2 separate regions of the Homo sapiens genome follow, and region 1 is linked to region 2. The links come from fine-mapping of genetic effects on gene expression. A gene starts in region 2. The other region holds a variant in brackets. All regions are shown on one strand. Distances are from middle to middle. Region 1 has its middle 30 kb from the start of DRC11. Region 2 holds the start of DRC11 (dynein regulatory complex subunit 11).

The links.
Region 1: its variant is fine-mapped to the expression of DRC11 in esophagus muscle (GTEx, PIP 0.90).

The regions. Positions count from the first base shown.
Region 1 is chr2:236,535,195-236,540,570 of GRCh38, forward strand. It overlaps a transcript of ACKR3 not described here. Among named protein-coding and RNA genes, the nearest start is that of DRC11, 30 kb to the left of the region's middle. RefSeq lists enhancers at 1,697-1,916, 3,020-3,069. The variant T/C (reference allele first, on the strand shown) is at 2,508.
Region 2 is chr2:236,504,869-236,510,244 of GRCh38, forward strand. It overlaps DRC11 (dynein regulatory complex subunit 11), which reads right to left and starts at 2,608. Exons shown (of 19, transcript NM_024726.5): 1 at 2,389-2,608. The coding sequence starts at 2,399. RefSeq lists a silencer at 2,734-2,783.

The DNA.
Region 1 (5,376 bases), 30 kb after region 2:
CCAGGGAATGCTGTGGTTATTACTCATTGTATTTCTAATGTTTCACAGGCAGAGCTTGGCGGTGTGCTTGATGCAAACATGGCAGATATGAACCTGGTGTTGTACCCGTGGGTCAGGATGAGGCAGGCATGGGTGTGTGTGAGGCCCTGGGTGTAGAATCAACCGAAAGTGGAGGCTTGCTAAGAAGACTCTATCTCCAATAAATCAGCTACCTGTGGGTCTGACTCCAGTCAAGATTGGCACCAGACTACCCTGGCTGAAGTGTCAGGGCCTCCCATCAAGGTCACGCATGGAAGGAGGAATCCGAGGGAAGCTGGGGAAGGTTGCTGGCTTCTCGCCTTGGGTGGAAAGGCGGAAGCCCTGGGGTGGGGGTTTAGGAGCAGTGCTTCTGTCCCCGCAGAGTTGGCTTGGCCATGACGGAAGAAAGCCCGGATCTCAAGCTGGGGCCTTCCAGAGGAAGGGGAGTGCTGATGTCAGGCAATCAGTCATGGAACTTTGATGTTGGGATCCAGTCCCTTGGGAGGGGAGTCCTTTTTTTTAAACTTTTAAGTTCAGGGGTACATGTGCAGGTTTGTTACATAGGTAAACTTGTGTCAGGGGGGTTTGTGGTACAGATCATTTAATCACCTAGGTATTAAGCCTAGTACGCATTTGTTATTTTTCCTGGTCCTCTCTCTCCTCCCATTCTCTACCTCATGATAGGCCCCAGTGGAGTAGGGGACCTTCTGAGTCCTGAGTCACAGCAGCTTTTATAAAGACAGGTTTTTCTTGGTGTCCGGTAGGCTCCCCTAGCTGGGCCAGCAGAGGGAGGTGGGTGCAGAGGATGGTGGGGAGGGCAGTGGGAGGAAAGGGAGACAGACAAGAGCAAGGGCTCCTGCTGGAGACTGGGTTCCTCCCAGGTATTAGGCCTAGCATGATGGGGTTTGTTCGGGGAGCTCATATCAGGGAACAGGAGCAGGGCTGAGAGAGTGAAGTGGGGAGAAGGGCAAGGTCTTCCACAGTGCTTCCTCAGGCTGGCCGCCACTGTGGGCTGCCGGATCCCATCCACTGGGCACTGAGGAGCTGGGGGGGACTTGCCTCTCAGAGTGGTCTGCCTGAGGACAGAAGGAGGAGCCGTCATCCAGTACATGCCTTCCCTTGGTCCAGGGCTGCCACACAGAGTCATTCCCAGGCTGTGTGGGCACCATGCGTGTGTCATAGAAAAGGTGCCCACAGGTACCTCCTGCAGGAAGCTTGTTGCTGCCACAGTGGCTGGAGTAAAAGGTGGGATGAGAAGCCGTGACGTTGAGTTCAAGCAGAGAGCTCTGTGATATGACGGGAACAAGAAAGGCTTCTGCACTGTTCATGAACTTGGTTGTAGCTTGTGGGTAACCCATGTCTTTCTATCTGGGGGAGGGAACATTGATCACCTTCAATTCCTGGGTTTCTGCTAGATGACCTGATTCCGGGGGAAGGTACCAGCTTTGGGAGTCAAGAAAAGCAACTCACCTAACGTATCTATCTGAGTCTTAGTCTTCTCACCTGTAAAATGGGAATAATAATTTATTTCCTATCTCCTGGGTATTGTGAGTTAATAGGGAATTACAATAATAAATTTCCAAAGGAAATGCCTTGCAGTGTGTAAATCCCTCTGCAGGTGTGAAGTGAAACTAATAGTGAAACACAGACGCATGTGAACTGTCGGCAGTTATGACAGCTGGCCCCTTGAGGGTTCTAGGTGCCTAGAGACTGTCTGGCACTTTTATATGCATAATATCATCTCATCCTCCTTGCAGCTCCTATGGCAGTCACTGTTATTATTCCCATTTACAGATGAGGACACAGAAACTCAGAGAGAGCAAGGGCCTTGCCCTGGGCCCTGCAGGAAGTGGTATTGGGAGGCTCCACGCTGCCTGTCTGCATTGCAGAAGCTCAGCCCCTTTCCTGCCCCAAATCTCTCACCACTGCTTGGTTAAACACGGTGTTACCTGGCTGTGTAGCACTGTGGCAAGCGGTCTACTAATCCTGATTGGATTCTAGGAATACCAGCAATGGGATGGCTGCCACCTGCTGACAGGGAGAATGGAGGAGGCCAAGGTCAAGCCCAGGGGCAGCCTGCCTTGGTCCTAAGTGTGAGCGGCTGGTGGAGATGAGCCAGGAGGAGGCAGAAGCTGGTAAGGAGGCTGGTTTTGCCTAGTACAAGGATTGTTACCAGGGCTCCATGAATAGGCTTGGGGCAGTGTCTCAGCCTCTCGAATGGCCTGTAAATGTATGGGCCCATGGGTGCATATGCTTTTTTCTAGGAAGCAGGTTCATCATTTTTATTAGTGTCATAATAATCCATGACCCTGAAGTTTGAACAGCAGTTCTCCATTGGGCCACCCTGGCATAAATGCAAGTGGTACAGGGCCCCTTGGATATCTCTGTACACATTGAGACCTGGACAACTTGTCCTTCTGAATGGCTTAAATCCCAAGAATTTTGCCTCTTTACGTGGCTGCTTTAATTTTATGTTTTTACCTTTTTGC[T/C]ACTATTACTTATGAGCCAGAATTAGGAATTTTCCAAGAACTGGAGGGAGGGAAAATGTGTCCCAGCTTCATCACCCACGTGCTCTCTTCCACCGCCTTTACTTTTGTCTGCATTTTCTCCAAAAGGGTTAATGTTCTTATCAAATTCAGTTTTCTTTCTTTCACTAATGCGTATTCATGCTCTTTCAAGCAAGCAAGCAAATGTGCTTCTATTAGGCAATCAGTTCTGCAGATTACATTTTTTTAGTTGCTAGGCTAGAAAAATAAAAATAACCTAATAAGAAAGTGTTTATGTTGGAAGTAGGTATTCCAAAAAGAATAGTTCTTTTAAAAATAATTCCCCAAACAACTCTTAACAGGTCTTGATTCAAAGAGGTTTTGTTTTCTTTTTTTTTTCTAGCGTGAAAAGCAATATACATAAGCCAGATCCTTTCCTTGGGCAGCGTGGTTAATACTAGCACACATCACACCTGGTATTTGACTTCTCAGAAACTTGCTAAAAACCTTGTGTGGCCATAATCCCTGACTTGATTAACTGTTATTGAGTGTGTTCTGCAAAGTAACAGGAGCTTTAGATGTCTCCTGAAAAGAAAAGCAGAACAGACACAGATTGCCGAAATGAAACAGCAACACAGTGATGATATATTTTCACAACTTGAAATACTAAAAACGTGGTCAAAAGGATCCATCCGAGTCAGAGATTGGGCTCTGTCTGTGGCCACAGCGGAAGCCAGGTGCTGTGGGCTCACCACCCTGACCTTGGATGGATGGCAAGACTTGCCACCCCCACCCTCCTACTGAGGAGTCCCTTGGAGAAATCAATGGCAAAACTGGCCCCAAGCATGGAAAGGGGCTGCAGTTCTAAGGTGGACCGGGGCAGAGCTTGCTTTCTGTCTTCTGAGAAGTGGCTGGGGTAAGACCAAGTCTAGTGGACCTCTTGATGAGTAGATATCTGCCCTGCCCTTAAAAAGCCAACAGCAAACTACAGTGTAGGCACGGTTGCCAGATAAAATACAGACTGCCTAATTAAAATTGAATCTCAGATGAACAAGGAATAGTTTTTCAGTATAAGTATGTTCCATGCAGGTAGATGTCATGCATATTTCTGATATTGCTTGGGATATTCTTATCCTAAGAAGTGATGTGTGGTTTCCCTGAGATTGAAACTTAGCTGAGCATCCTGTATTTTTATTTGCTAAGCCTGGATACTCTAGCTCAGGGCAAAGTAGGCGCGGACAGGCTGTGTTGGCTCACCTTTCTGGTCAGGGCTATAGATTGTGCTCTCAGGTTCTAGGACTTCATGTAGCTGGAATGATGCAGTATGCCTTCTTTTGTGTCTTGCTTCTTTTACTTGGTATATTATTTTGAGATTCATCCCTGTTGCTGCCTCTATTGTAGTTTGTTCCTTTTTATTATTGAGTAGTATTCTACTGTAAGAAAATACTACAGTTTATTATCACGTCTGGATGGGCCTTTGGGTTGTTTCCAGTTCTTGTCTATTGTGAATAATACTTCTATGAGTTTTGATAGACACATTTGTGTGTGTGTGTGTGTCTCTCTCTCTCTCTCTCTCTTTGTGTAAACATTATTTTCATTTTTCTTTTCTTTTTTTTTTTTTTTTTTGTTTTTTAGACAGAGTCTCACTCTGTCACCCAGGCTGGAGTGCAGTGGTGCGATCTCGGCTCACTGGAACCTCTGCCTCCTGGGTTCAAGCAATTCTCCTGCCTCAGCCTCCCTAGCAGCTGGGATTACAGGTGTTCACTACCACGCCTGGCTAGTTTTTGTATTTTTAGTAGAGGTAGGGTTTCACCATGTTGCCCTGGCTGGTCTCGAACTCCTAACCTCAAGTGATCCACCTGCCTCAGCCTCCCAAAATGCTAGGATTATAGGCATGAGCATCCGCCTTGGCCTCCCAAAGTGCTGGAATTACAGGCATGAGCCACCACATCCAGCCATTATTTTCATTTTTCTTGGGTAAATACCTAATAGTATAATTGCTGGATCTTATATTGTATTAGTCTGTTCTCATGATGCTAATAAAGACATTTCTGAGACTGGGTAATTTATAAAGGAAAGAGATTTAACTGACTCACAGTTCTACATGGCTGGAGAGGCCTTACAATCATGGAGGAAGGCAAAGGAGATGCAAAGGGACGTCTTACATGGCAACAGGCAAGAGAGCATGTGCAGGGGAACTCCCATTTATAAAACCATCAGATCTCATGAGATTTATTCACTACCATGAGAACAGAATGGGGAAAACTGCTCCCATGATTCAACTATCTCCACCTTGCCCCGTCCTTGACACAGGAGGATTATTACATTTCAAGGTGAGATTTGGGTGGGGACACAGCCAACTGTATCATATAGTAAGTGTACATTTAACTTTATAGGAAACTGCAAAACAGTTTTCCAAAATGGCTGTACCATTTTACACTGTGGCCAGCAATATGTGAGTATTCCACTTGTTCCTCATTCTTGCCAACACTCGACGTTGTCTGTGTTTTTATTTAGTTATTGTAGTAATTGTAAAATAGTGTCTAAGAATTGTGGTTCTAATTTGTGTTTCTCTGATGATAATTCAGTTGAAAATCTTTTCATTTGCTTAATGACCATTCATGTATGTAAATAAATTTTGTGTTCGTCTTTTGTCTGTTTTTTTTTTTGTTAGGTTATGTGTCTTCTTATTGAGTTATACGGGTTCTTTCTATATTCTGGACACCAGCCCTTTGCAGATATCTTTCTCCAGTCTCTGACTTGCCTCTTCATTTTTATAGGTGTCTTTTGAAAAGCAGCAGGTTTTACTTTGATTAACTCAAATTTGTCATTTTTTACATTAATGTTTAGTGTTTTTCATGTTCTAAGAAAT
Region 2 (5,376 bases):
CCTGCTGTCATGATTGTAAGTTTCCTAAGGACTTCCCAGTCCTGCAGAACTGTTAGTCAATTAAACCTCTTTCCTTTATAAATCACCCAGTCTCGGGTATGTCTTTATTAGCAGTGTGAGAACAGACTAATACAGATGGAACAACAGGTGTGAAAGTGTTCCTGGAATTTTAAATGCACTTTGCAAACAGAAGGTAATATTTTATCCATGAGACTACTTAACAGTTTTTGAAAGTATATGATTGGTTTCAGACTTGAGCATATGACTTAGAGATATGACAGATTTTGAAGTCAGGAGGCTTGTGGATGAAGACTGAATATGACAGTTAAAAAGACCAGACTGTTATTTCTACAGCTTGGCAGTTTTCCTATAACGGAGTGGGTAGGGGAGGGAAACACTTGAATATTCACTTGAATATATGCACTTCCGTGGGAACTCAAAATATTGCACAATGGGAATTCTTTTCAAGTTATTTTGCACAAGATAAAACCTTCTGAATCTTCCAATCTTAACTAGTTTGCTGTCTTCTTCCCCAAATACTCCCCCTGCCTTCTTGCTCTACGGAAGGCCTGTCTCTGCTCAGAAGCCCTCTCAGTAGAGGCTCCTGTTACCCCCAGAGCCCTCTGTCTCTGGCTGTGGGGCTGGGTCAAGGGGACCCCTTCTCTTCACTGCACCTCCAGACATTTGCCTTCCCTCCTCCCAACACTCCCAGGCTTTGAATCCCATTTCATCTGATGCTGTCACCACTGCCCCTCAGTCACCATCATCTTCCATCTACCATGATCGTTCCAGGCCACCTCCAGAGCACCCACCCACTGAATAGCATCTTGATGCTGCCTTCCTACCTGTTCCATTGTTAAGTGCTGAGTTCCTCTACCTAAGGCCAGCACCCCCTGGATCCCATGTCCTCTCACTACCAACGATGTCACCCACTTCTCCCTCCTCCTCCTATATCATTCTGGGCCATTCCCTTCCACACACAAACATTCTATTGTTTTCTGTCTTGGAGCCATGTCCTCTGCCTCTAGCTGCCAACATATTTCCTTTCCTCTGCAGCAAAACTCCTTTAAAGAGTTAGCTATGCTCACCATCTATAGTTTCTCTCCCCCTACATTCACTTGAGTAAGTCTTTCTATCTCATCATACCACTGAATCAGCTCCTGTCAAGGTCACTGGTGAACTCCACACTGCCAAATCAACAGTCAGTTCTCAGTTCTACCCCAACTTGTCTCAGGAGCACTTGATGGAGGAGAAAGAAGTTACTTCTCCTGGAAACACTATTATTTCTTCCACTCGCTTCTTCCTCATGGATCATGTCTTTGATTCCTTTGCCAGGTCTCCTCTTCCCCCAGCCTTACTGTGGATGATCCCAGGATCAGTCCTTACACCTCTTTATTAATATTCATTCTATGTCTCACAAAGACCATCACAGGCTGACAGTGAGCAAGTTTATATTTCAGACATGGGTCTCGCTCCTGAACCCAAGATCTGAATATTTTAATTGCCTATTTCATCTCCACGTGATGTCCAATGGGCACTTCCAACTCAATACGTCTTAAACAGAACTCTTGATCTTCCCCATTTCCAAACCCTGGCAAGCCTTTAACCTCTCTGCTCTTATTTCCTTGCCTAGAATACAGGGCACGTAATAGCAACAGTGCAGGCTGGAGCTACAGTGCCCGGCTTGGCACTGTTCACTTGCTGTGTGAACTACTTCACCTCTTCATCCCCAAGTTCCCTCATCTGTAAAATGGAAATAACAATATTAACAGCCCCTACGTTACAGGGTTGCTGTGAAGCGGTTAGAACAGTGTCTACAGGGTCAGCGCTGTAATACCTGTTGGAAATTATTCTTACGAAGACCAAATGAGGTAACTTTGTGCAAGTGCTGTGTAAACGACACAGTGCTAGGCACACACTTCTTTCAGTACCAATGCCACTCGAGTCTGTGAAAAGCAAATGTCAATAATGCTTTCCCAAGATCTTTCTAGACTTAAATTTCAGGACCTAGGTGTTTCCACAAAGCACCGTATTTGTTACCGTGAAAGATTAACAAAAAAAGCAGACAAAATGGCATAGTGCTTCTCAGCAATAGCCCCTAAGGGCTTGGCAGGTATACGGAAGACTGGGAGCTCATCCCCATGGGGTGGTGGGACGCGTAGGGGAGGGGGAGATCTAAGTGTATGATTTTCCTTGCTCACAAGAAGCAGATACTCTATCCCGAGGCATATTTGAATTTCCTAAAAGGAAAAAAAGTGGGGGAGAGGAGGGAAGTTGAGAGGGGAGGAGAAAAGAAAAGAAAAAAGAAAATAAGAGAAGCAGAAAGCAAGCCACCTTCTGGCTTGGGGAAGCCCACTCCATGGCTGTGGCTGGGAGCCCATCACTTACGCGTTCGACATTGCTGGCTACTTTCCCTCTTTTCCTCGCCCTCCGGGAAGCTCTTCCGTTGCTCTCTGAAGGACGGTGGCAGCAGGGGTCAGGGCACTACCAGGAGCTACAGAGGATTTGGGTGGGGGGTCTTCTGGAGGGAGAAACCAGGACTGCGAGAATCTTCTGCTTCGGGCAGGAAAAGGTGAGGCCGGGTTTGCTTCGCAGGCACGGAGCGCGCAGGCGCAGAGAGGTGTTTCACTCCTTCCCGTCGCGACCCAGAGACTCGCGAACCTCACTTCGGCCACTCAGGTGGGCGCGACGCGGCCCTAGCAACGGAAACGCCGCGCCTGCGCATTGCCTTCCGCCTGCCCCCTCCCCCCCCCCGCCCCCCGCATTCCGCGCCTGCGCCACCGCGGGAGGCCTGGGTGGGCGCAGCTGTGGGAGCCGGTCGGAGTCCGAGCGCTCCGTCGCGGGGCCCGGCCGCTTGGCGAGCCTGCTCCGGGCCCCAGCACTTAGCCTGTGGTCCTCCAGGCCGTCTTCCCGCTTTCCTGCTGGCCCCATTTTCATCCACTGTCAGCTCTGCGGCCTTGGGCAAGGCCCTTAATGATGGTGGTCTTCAGTTTTCCCATCTGTAAACTGGGTATAACAGTCGTTCGTTCAGAACTTTACTGGGCATCTATTCTGGGCCAAGTGCAGACTTAGATTCTGGGCACCCAAGACTTAGGCAGACGCGCCCTTCGGAGACTTAATGAGTATGAACTAAGGCGCGGGTGCGTTGTAAATGTAAAATGCAGTGTGGATGCTATTAACAGTTATCCGTAAGTCGCTATGAGTGTTGGCTTTCATTGCTCTTCTTTCTTCGACTTTAGTAACTGTTGAGGTTTATTTGCACATTTTAGACCCTGCAGCTCCTATTGGAACGCCAGGTTTAATGCTGTCAAAGGCGTGGAGAGGACATCCAGGTAAAAATTATAATCAGGATCACAAAACCTCTCCCCCACCATTACTAATGAAATGCGCAAAAGCATAGTAAAAGCCAGCCCTCCGCACCGCCTTCAAATAATGGAGCAAATTATTTCTCAGACGAGAAATTGAGTACAACCTTGTACCGTAAACTTCAAAAACTCAGTGAAATAGCAGCTTGCCGTGGAGAATGGTGTCCAGCCTCATCTCCACCCTCCCAAAGCCCTTCAGGGGGCAGAGACCAAGTAGACACAACACCAAGAATTCTCATTAATGCTTTTTGATGCAAAGAATACACACACTGAAAAGAAGGGGTATGAAAGGGTGAGCCGAACGAGGAAACACCTGGGGAAATCCGGCCAGATAAAACCATCCTGAGTGGAGGTCAATCCCTACCGCTCCCAGGACCTGAGCAGGGACAGGAGAAATCTCCAGGGCTTGCCTTTTTCTAGGTCCCTACATTGAATTGAGGCAAAGATTCAAAGTCAAAGGGCATGTTGTCACAGGAATAGGGCACACTCGTGACAAGAGTGGGAGGATGGTGGTAAAGGAGCTTATCAAAATCTCAGAAGAGAGCACAGAGCCTGGAAGTTGTGTGGATTCAAGGGAGCAGTCCTTATCCTAAATGTGTACTCAGGTTCCAGAAAAGCAGAGAAAAGTGCAGTATCTCAGCTCTGGAACTCAGATACAGTGAGAAGACAGTCAAAGAGAATTCGCCCACATTATATTTGAACAAACAGAACATTTTCAAAGAGCAACACGTGTTAAATAGGAATAAGACAGAAAGAAGCAGCATATCCACTGTCTAAAACCAAGACTTTCATAAAAGTAGAAGAAAAGAAAGGATTATAACATAGGCCAGACAAGTGAAAGAAAGTCTGGAGAAAATCTAACCAAATAAATAAAAGCAGAAAAATCTTTTTTGTTTGTTTGTTTTGAGATGGAGTCTCCCCCTGTCACCCAGGCTGGAGTGCAGTGTGTGATCTCGGCTCACGGCAACCTCCACCTCCCGGGTTCAAGCAATTCTCCTGCCTCAGCCTCCCACGTAGCTGGGATTACAGGCGCCTACCACCATGCTCAGCTAATTTTTTGTATTTTTAGTAGAGACAGGGTTTCACCATGTTAGTCAGGCTGGTCTGGAACTCCTGACCTCAGGAGATCTGCCCGCCTCGGCCTCCCAAAATTCTGGGATTACTGGCGTGAGCCATCGCGCCCTGCCAAAACAGAAAAATCTTTACTTGTGCTCCATGCTATAGAATAAGCTAATAAGAACATTAAGGTAATAAAATAAGAACTGGGAGAAAATATAAAACAATGGAATGAGAAAGGAAGGAAGATTACACAGCTAAGGAAACCAAAAGAAAAACAGAAGTAGTGCAATACAGAAAATAAGTTGGAAAAACCAAGAAATAGACCAGGCACAATTCAGCTGAATTACTGACTTAGAGGAAAAACCTGACTCAATTACAGTAAATGTAGAGAGGAAAGAGTGAGACACCTGAGCAATTTACAAAAAGGGTTAGTTGATATTCCTGCAAGAAAGACCTTCAACATTAGACTATTTTCAGAGATACAAGAAATGTTTTTGAAATAAAAGAATTAAATCTGCAGATCAGAAATTCTCACTGTGTTCCAGGGAAAACTGATATACAACACTCAACATCAGGAAATGTCCTGGATACATTATTGAACTTCAAAGAGAAATGGTAGGAGAAATCTGGCTAGCCTCAGATTTTGATGTCAGATGAAAATGAAGCAATATTTACAAAGTTCTTGGGGAAAAGTGTGACCCAAGACTATTTCTACTCATTCACGTTAATAGTCCCAATATGAAAGCCTTCAGGAGATACAGCACTCATGTGCAGATTGACGTGTTAACAAATGCAAATAATAGAAACCCAGTGAACATTGGCTTAAACAATAGGAAGATTTAAAATCTCCCTTAACACCAAGAATAGAGGTGGTGGCTCATGATCTCAGTGGCTCAGTGACATCATCAAGGATCAGTCTTCAATGGTCTTTCCATCTTTTGGAGCTGTCATA